2 linked regions of the Homo sapiens genome follow. The protein of the gene in region 1 interacts with the protein of each later gene in a biochemical or structural test. Each region holds a gene or a part of one and is shown in the gene's direction. Other genes may lie near its edges.

Evidence for each region. Proteins that work in one complex are often made in the same cells at the same time.
Region 2: the proteins of SYT3 (region 1) and AP2A1 form a complex in vitro, tested with the Homo sapiens proteins (one study listed by BioGRID).

Annotation. Positions count from the first base shown.
Region 1 is NC_000019.10:50,638,235-50,641,978, reverse strand, and holds the start of SYT3 (synaptotagmin-3), read left to right. Parts: upstream 1-2,097; 5' UTR 2,098-2,189; intron 2,190-2,579; exon of another isoform or gene 2,580-2,816; 5' UTR 2,817-2,954; intron 2,955-3,744. UniProt on the Homo sapiens protein: Ca(2+) sensor involved in Ca(2+)-dependent exocytosis of secretory vesicles through Ca(2+) and phospholipid binding to the C2 domain.
Region 2 is NC_000019.10:49,797,892-49,801,635, forward strand, and holds part of AP2A1 (AP-2 complex subunit alpha-1), read left to right. Parts: intron 1-910; coding exon 911-1,061; intron 1,062-1,435; coding exon 1,436-1,604; intron 1,605-1,713; exon of another isoform or gene 1,714-1,737; coding exon 1,738-1,875; exon of another isoform or gene 1,876-2,076; coding exon 2,077-2,259; intron 2,260-3,069; coding exon 3,070-3,167; intron 3,168-3,498; coding exon 3,499-3,730; intron 3,731-3,744.

The DNA of each region.
Region 1 (3,744 bases):
AGGATGCGTGCTTAAAGTTGTATTTGCAGAAGCAGCAAGCAATTTTTACTTTTATTTACTTACTTATTTTGACATTTTTATTTCTTGCTCTAAATATTTATTTATTTATTCATATTTATGTTTATTTTTGAGACAGGGTCTCACTCTGTCGCCCAGGCTGGAGCCCAGTGGCACAATCTTGGCTCACTGACTGCAACCTCCACCTTCTGGGTTCAAGTGATCCTTCTGCCTCAGCCCCCCAAGTAGCTAGGACTACAGGCATGCATCACCACACCCAGCTAATTTTTGTATTTTTTGTAGAGACAGGGTTTTGCCATGTTGCCCAGGCTGGTCTTGAACTCCTGAGCTCAAGTGATCCGCCCACTTGGCCTCCCAAAGTGCTAGGATTACAGGCATGAGCCACCGCACCTGGCTATTTATTCTTGAGATGGGGGTCTTGCTTTGTTGCCCAGGCTGGATGGAATGCAGTGGTGCAATCATAGCTCACTGCAGCCTCAAAATCCTGGGCTAGGCCGGGCGCGGTGGCTCACGTCTGTAATCCCAGCACTTTGGGAGGCCGAGGCGGGTGGATCACAAGGTCAGGAGATCGAGACCACGGTGAAACCCCGTCTTTACTAAAAATACAAAAAAAATTAGCCGGGCACGGTGGCAGGCGCCTGTAGTCCCAGCTACTCAGGAGGCTGAGGCAGGAGAATGGAGTGAACCCGGGAGGCGGAGCTTTCAGTGAGCCCAGATCGCGCCACTACACTCCAGCCTGGGCGACAGAGCAAGACTCTGTCTCACAAAAAAAAAAAAAAAAAAAAAAAAAAATTCCTGGGCTCCAGCAATCCTCCCACCTCAGCCTCCTGCGTAGGTGGGACTACAGGTGCACGCCACCACACCCACTAGTTTGGTTTTGTTTTGGTTTTTTGGTTTTTTTGTTTTGTAGAGATGGAGTCTCCTACGTTGTCCAGGATAGTCTCAAACTCCTGGCTTCAAGGGATCCTCCCACTTCAGCCTCCCAAAGTGTTGGGATTTACAGGTGTCAGCCCAGCCTTTGATTTTTACCTAGAGGTTGTATTTATTTGGATGTCACTGATTGAGAGCACTGAGGGGGCCTCCGAGCCACCTCTCCAGGCTATGTAGATCTAGATCAAGCTTGTCCAACCCATGGCCTGAGGCCCGCATGCAGCACAGGACAGCTTTGAATGCGGCACAACACAAATTTGTAAACTTTCTTAAAACATTATGAGATTTTTTTGTGATTTTTTTTTTCTCATCAGCTATTGTTACTGTTAGTGTATTTTATGTGTAGCCCAAGACAACAATGCAGTCCAGGGAAGCCAAAAGATTGGACACCCCTGATCTAGACCTTACCCAAGGGATTTAACCTCCATGGGCCTCAGTTGTCTCCTCTGTGAAATGGGAATGTCATAATTGCACCCAAGTGAAAATTAAATGAGAAAACGCTTTCAAAGCACTTAGCACTTCACCACTTATAGGAAATGACAATTGCCATTAACTGCTATTAATATACCAGAAACTGTTACTCACTACTTTTGAGAAATATTCATTAAGTACCTAGTTGGTACCAATGTTTTGTCTACACTGACCGGTTTTTCAAACTGTGGATCCCTTAGGAAATAAGTTTATGGTGTGTATTTTGCTGATGAGGAAACGGGGCCTCAGAGCAAGAGGCGCACACAGGCAGGAGTTGGCCCAGGTGGGATTCAAACCCAGGTCCCTGCTAGTACCTCTATCCTGGCTGTGGCACTGTACCTTTGAGTCTCAGCTTCCGCTCCTACCACCGGCCTTCAGAGCGGCTCAGGTTGGAGGGCCTGAAGTCCTGGGTTCCTGGGAAGAGGGGCCTGGGGTCCCCGGACTTCTACCTCTGTGAGATAGCGGGGCGGAGAACTGGGCCCCCGGACCCTGGAGAAGCAGCACGTCGTGATCCTAGATCTCTGGGTCCCCAGTGTGGAAACCCACTGGGTCTCTGCTGCCTTAGTCCCGGGCAATCTCCCTGCTTCCTTGCTGAGGCCAAGTGATTTCGGCTTTCTTGCCGCGGGTTCGGAGTGGGGGAAGGAGGGGGTGCAGGGGGAGGAGCCGCGGACCTGCGACAGTGGCGAGGGGAGGAGCCGAGCCGGCACCGCGGCTGGCGCGCGGGGCTGCGGCGGCGGCGGCGGCGGCAGCGGCGGCAGCGGCGGCTCCGGGTGAGTCCGCTCCTCCCCCTCCTCCTGCCACAGCCCCAGCCCCAGTCAAATCCCTGGGGTCGGCCCCGGCGCATGGGGGCGGGGTAGATGCAGAGGCGCGTGGATCTCGGGCCGGGGAGTGGGAGCGCTGCAGCGCTCTCTGGCCACCCCGGGGGAGGGGCACGTGGCCCTGGAAGGGGGTCCCGAAACACCTGGGTGTATCCCACCCCTCGCCCACCGATCCCCAGCGCGGGGGGATCGTTTCCTCATTCCGTGGCCCCTAAGGACTTAGGGCTCCGTGGCTTTTCGAAGTCCCGGACATCGTTCCCCTCCCCTGAAGCGTCTTGGGACCCCAGCATCTTAACCCCCCAAAACCTTAAAAAAAAAAAAAAAATCCCATCCTCTCTGCAGCCCGGAGGCATTAAGGACTTCAACTCCCAGCAGATCCTGCAGCGCCGGGTCTATGAAGCCGCAGCAGCGCGAGCGCGAGACCTGCCGGGAATTGTAGTCTCTAAGCCCTCAACGGGAGCTGGGGGCCCGGAGGTGGGAGGGGGTGGCCGGGCTCCCAGTGGGTCGCCTGGGGTCGGGCAGCTGGCTCGAGTAGGGCAAGATGTGACTGTTAAGCTGAGCTTTTTCTCCCGGCCTCAGCCCCTAGATCAGACATTCTCTCTCATTACCCGGCGCGTGGGAACGGGTCCACAGCCCCTTGTCCGCCCTAGAACCCCCATGGGCTGCCGCCCGCCGCCGCCTCGGCTGCCACCCAGGACACGGCAGAGATAAGCGCAGGTGAGTGTGGCCATGCCTGTCTTGGAGTCCTGGCCTTCTGCAGCACCCCCACGACACCTGTCCATCTGTGAGCCCTGGTCTGTCTGTTCCTAATTCCCCTGCATCCCCTTCAACCCATCTTGATGCCTGGCTCCGAGCCATGTGTCACTAATTCCCCCTCTCCCCACATCCACCTCTCCTTCCTAGCCTCCTCTCATTTATGTGCTCATTGAACCTTCCCTTATGAACCCATGTCTGTCTGCCCAGCCCTCCTGTCTCCTTTTGTCTATCTGCGATCTCTAGCCATCATCTGCTGTCCTTGCCCACCCATCCATCCTCCCGTTCGACCGTTTCTCTTTCAAAGATATTTCTGCCCACACTCCTGCCTGCCCCTCTTCACCGTCTCTCGTCCTCTCGTCTCTCAAGCCCCCGTGAATTAATTACATCTCGGTTCATTCCTTGTCACTGTCCATCCCAAGTCTCAATCCTTGACTTTCCTTCTGCCTGCCTGTTCACCTCTCCATCTCTTCGGAGCCTCAGTCTGCCCTTCACATTATCTCTGTCTCCCCTCCCTGTATCTCTCCCTCCCTCAACTTGGTCCCCATCTCTGCATCTCCACCTCTCCACCCCCAGCTCCCACCATACCTATCCACCTCCAATCTCTCTACCCACATCCATCCTTCTCTCCTGGCCCTCCCCGCGTCTACCCCAGTCTGGCCTCCTTGGTCCCTGGACCCTCCAACTGCTTTCCTACCCTAAGCCCCTGTCATCCTGCTCCTACTGTCTAAAATGCTTTTCTTTAAAATGCTTT
Region 2 (3,744 bases), 840 kb from region 1:
ACAACATAGTTGCCCTGTTTCCAAAAAATAGGATTTAAATTGGATTCTGTCTTTGTTATTTCTCGTAGTCTGGACTAGCCCCCCTACACCTGTTTATGGAGAAACCAGGAGATGCCATTGCTGTGTGTCCCATGGTGGCGACTGGGCTCATTGCTGCCTTGTGGTGTATTTTAGCTTGTTCCTCTATCTGGTGAATTTTCCTGCGGAAAATTCTGCAGAAAAATCTGCGGAACCATTTTTTGCTGGAACGCTTGACAGCTCTTGCATACACTTGAAAACACGTCACATTCTAGGAAACGTGGTGATTGGTGCTCCTGTGAGCTGCTGGCTGGCATCTGTCAGTGGTGGAGAGCTCTGGGGGGTGAGGGGGCACCTGGTTGAGCCTTGTCTCCTTTGGCCTCCCAGCCTCTAGGCCAGGAGGATGGCACCGAGTGTGCCTGCAGTGGCCTCTTGCTGAATGGACACTTGGGTGGGTGGCTTGTGCATTTTTGTCAGGGGCTGCTCAGCACTCACACCAGTCCTTGGGAAGGCCTGGGTTTGGGGGCACCTCTGGGGAAGGTTCCTGGAGCTTCCTTTGCTCTGTGAGAAACCTAAGGAGCCTCAGAGCTGCAGATGAGGAAACTGAGGCTCACATGGTGCCACCTCTTGCCCGAGAGGGTCAGAGCAGGAGGAGAGCCCAGGTCTGGGGATAGATCTTGTGTCTCCAGAGGTGCCTTGTCTCACCATCTCTGCTGGGCTGGGAAGAGGTTGAGGGAGCAGAGACCCTGGCCCTGAGCTGCAGAATTCTCGAGTGTCAGAGGCACCCCGAGCTCCTCCTTTGGAAGACAGGAGCTGGGGCATGGCCACCACCCCAGCAGGTGTGCCAGGTGGGCAGGACACTCAGCCGGGGGCGTCCCCTTCGTTTCCCCAGAGGATGCGGCTGTGAAGGGGCGGCTGGTGGAATGTCTGGAGACTGTGCTCAACAAGGCCCAGGAGCCCCCCAAATCCAAGAAGGTGCAGCATTCCAACGCCAAGAACGCCATCCTCTTCGAGACCATCAGCCTCATCATCCACTATGACAGGTGCCCGCCTGGGCCTATCAGGGCCTGATGCCTGGGGCCAGGAAAGAGGGGCATGGAGGCCCGGACTCCTGAGTCCTAGGCAGAGGGCAGGGAATCTTGACTTTTAGGTAGGGTAGGAGGAGGATGGGGCTGTGAAGTGTCACCTGTGAGGTTGGTGCTGGGGCCCTTCCTGGGGGCAGAATTGCTAGGTATCTTTCTCTGGGCTCAAAGGCCCAGTTGTCTGGGTCACTGGAGGTGCAGTACTGCGATGCAAGGCCGGCAAGGTTAAGACCTGGATCCTTGGGGGCTGTGAGATGGGTCAGCTGGGGCCCGAGTCCTCCACCTTCTCCTGTCAGTTTCTCTCACCATCCCTCTCTTGTGGCCCCTGCTGGCAGTGAGCCCAACCTCCTGGTTCGGGCCTGCAACCAGCTGGGCCAGTTCCTGCAGCACCGGGAGACCAACCTGCGCTACCTGGCCCTGGAGAGCATGTGCACGCTGGCCAGCTCCGAGTTCTCCCATGAAGCCGTCAAGACGCACATTGACACCGTCATCAATGCCCTCAAGGTGTGAGCCCTTGGAGCCCACCCCGGGCCTGCCACCCCCCTCAGAAAGACCAGAGGCTCAGAGGCCCTTGGGTGGCCAACCCTGTGCCAACAGGGAGTCTAAAACACACCTGGGCTCTGCTCTCCGCCCTCAGACGGAGCGGGACGTCAGCGTGCGGCAGCGGGCGGCTGACCTCCTCTACGCCATGTGTGACCGGAGCAATGCCAAGCAGATCGTGTCGGAGATGCTGCGGTACCTGGAGACGGCAGACTACGCCATCCGCGAGGAGATCGTGAGTGCTGTGGGGTGCGGGCTGGACTCTTGGGTCTGAGGCAGGAGGTGGCTGGGGGCCTGGATTCCTAAGTCTAAGGGAGGAGGGGCTGGGGCCTGGACTCCTGGGTCTCCAGATGGGGGCAGTGGTGAGCCCAGATCCAGGTGAGTGAAAGCCCGACATGGCCTGCGGCACACTCTCTCTCACACGCCCCGGCGGCAGGTCCTGAAGGTGGCCATCCTGGCCGAGAAGTACGCCGTGGACTACAGCTGGTACGTGGACACCATCCTCAACCTCATCCGCATTGCGGGCGACTACGTGAGTGAGGAGGTGTGGTACCGTGTGCTACAGATCGTCACCAACCGTGATGACGTCCAGGGCTATGCCGCCAAGACCGTCTTTGAGGTCAGCATCCCTGACCCTGACCCTATGACCCCACGACAGGACCTAGAGGCAGAGCAAGGATGGCCGGGGCCGTGGCGCCTGCCAGCCCGCAGCCACCCTCCTTCTCCTGCACTGCCGTGACCTCAAAATGGGGCCTCTGCCTCTCTGGGCCAACCCAGGGGACCCAGGGCTATGGTCTCATGGGCCTGATGTGAGGAGTCCCCAGGGCATGGGCATGGGGCACCCAGTGTGCAGTCCTGGCCCCCGGATCTCGGTAGTTTCCCTCTGCCCCAGGAAAGGGGCCCCACACAGTCCTGTTTTTTGTTTGTTTGTTTGTTTGTTTCTGGAGACGGAGTCTCACTCTGTTGCCCAGGCTGGAGTGGGGAGTGAGTGCCGTGGTGCGATCTCGGCTCACTGCAACCTCGGCCTCCCAGCGTCAAGCCATTCTCCTGCCTCAGCCTCCCCAGTAGCTGGTACTACAGGCACGCGCCACCACACCCAGCTAATTTGTTTGTATTTTTAGTAGAGACGGGGTTTCACCATGTTACCCAGGCTGGTTTGAAACTCCTGAGCTCAGGCAATCTGCCCGCCTCGGCCTCCCAAAGTACCAGGATTACAGGCATGAGCCACTGCTTCCGGCCCACAGCCCTGTTTTACTTCCTGTGTGAGCTTGGGCCCGTCACTCAACCTTTCTGTGACTCAGTTTCCCACCTATAACCCCACCTGCAGCAGAGCTTTCAGTGTTCCACCAGTCAGTAGGTGGCTGCACCCACCGATCCCGGAGAGGGCGCTCATTGTTGTCCTCTCCACGCCCTTCCCCACCCCACTCAGGCGCTCCAGGCCCCTGCCTGTCACGAGAACATGGTGAAGGTTGGCGGCTACATCCTTGGGGAGTTTGGGAACCTGATTGCTGGGGACCCCCGCTCCAGGTGAGGGAGCCTCAGCCTGCAGGGGAGAACACACATGCTTCTGAGGGGTCCAGGGCTTGGGGGATCCCCAGGGGTCTCAGGGCAGGCAGTGATGGGCTCCCATCCTCTCGGCCTCCACCCCAATCCACCTAGCAGGGTAAGAAAGGAGCTTAGTCCCAGGATCGTGGACAGAGTGTGACTGCGGCCCCTGTCTGGTGCCTGGGGAGGGCCACTCCCCTCCAGCAGCTTGGGGTCCTGGGACGGGTCCATCCTAGGGAGGGGCACCTCTCGAGGGGGTTTCTGGGAGAGGGCAGTGGAACCTGGCCCCGCTGACACCCACTCCTGCACACAGCCCCCCAGTGCAGTTCTCCCTGCTCCACTCCAAGTTCCATCTGTGCAGCGTGGCCACGCGGGCGCTGCTGCTGTCCACCTACATCAAGTTCATCAACCTCTTCCCCGAGACCAAGGCCACCATCCAGGGCGTCCTGCGGGCCGGCTCCCAGCTGCGCAATGCTGACGTGGAGCTGCAGCAGCGAGCCGTGGAGTACCTCACCCTCAGCTCAGTGGCCAGCACCGACGTCCTGGTCAGAGCCCTGTC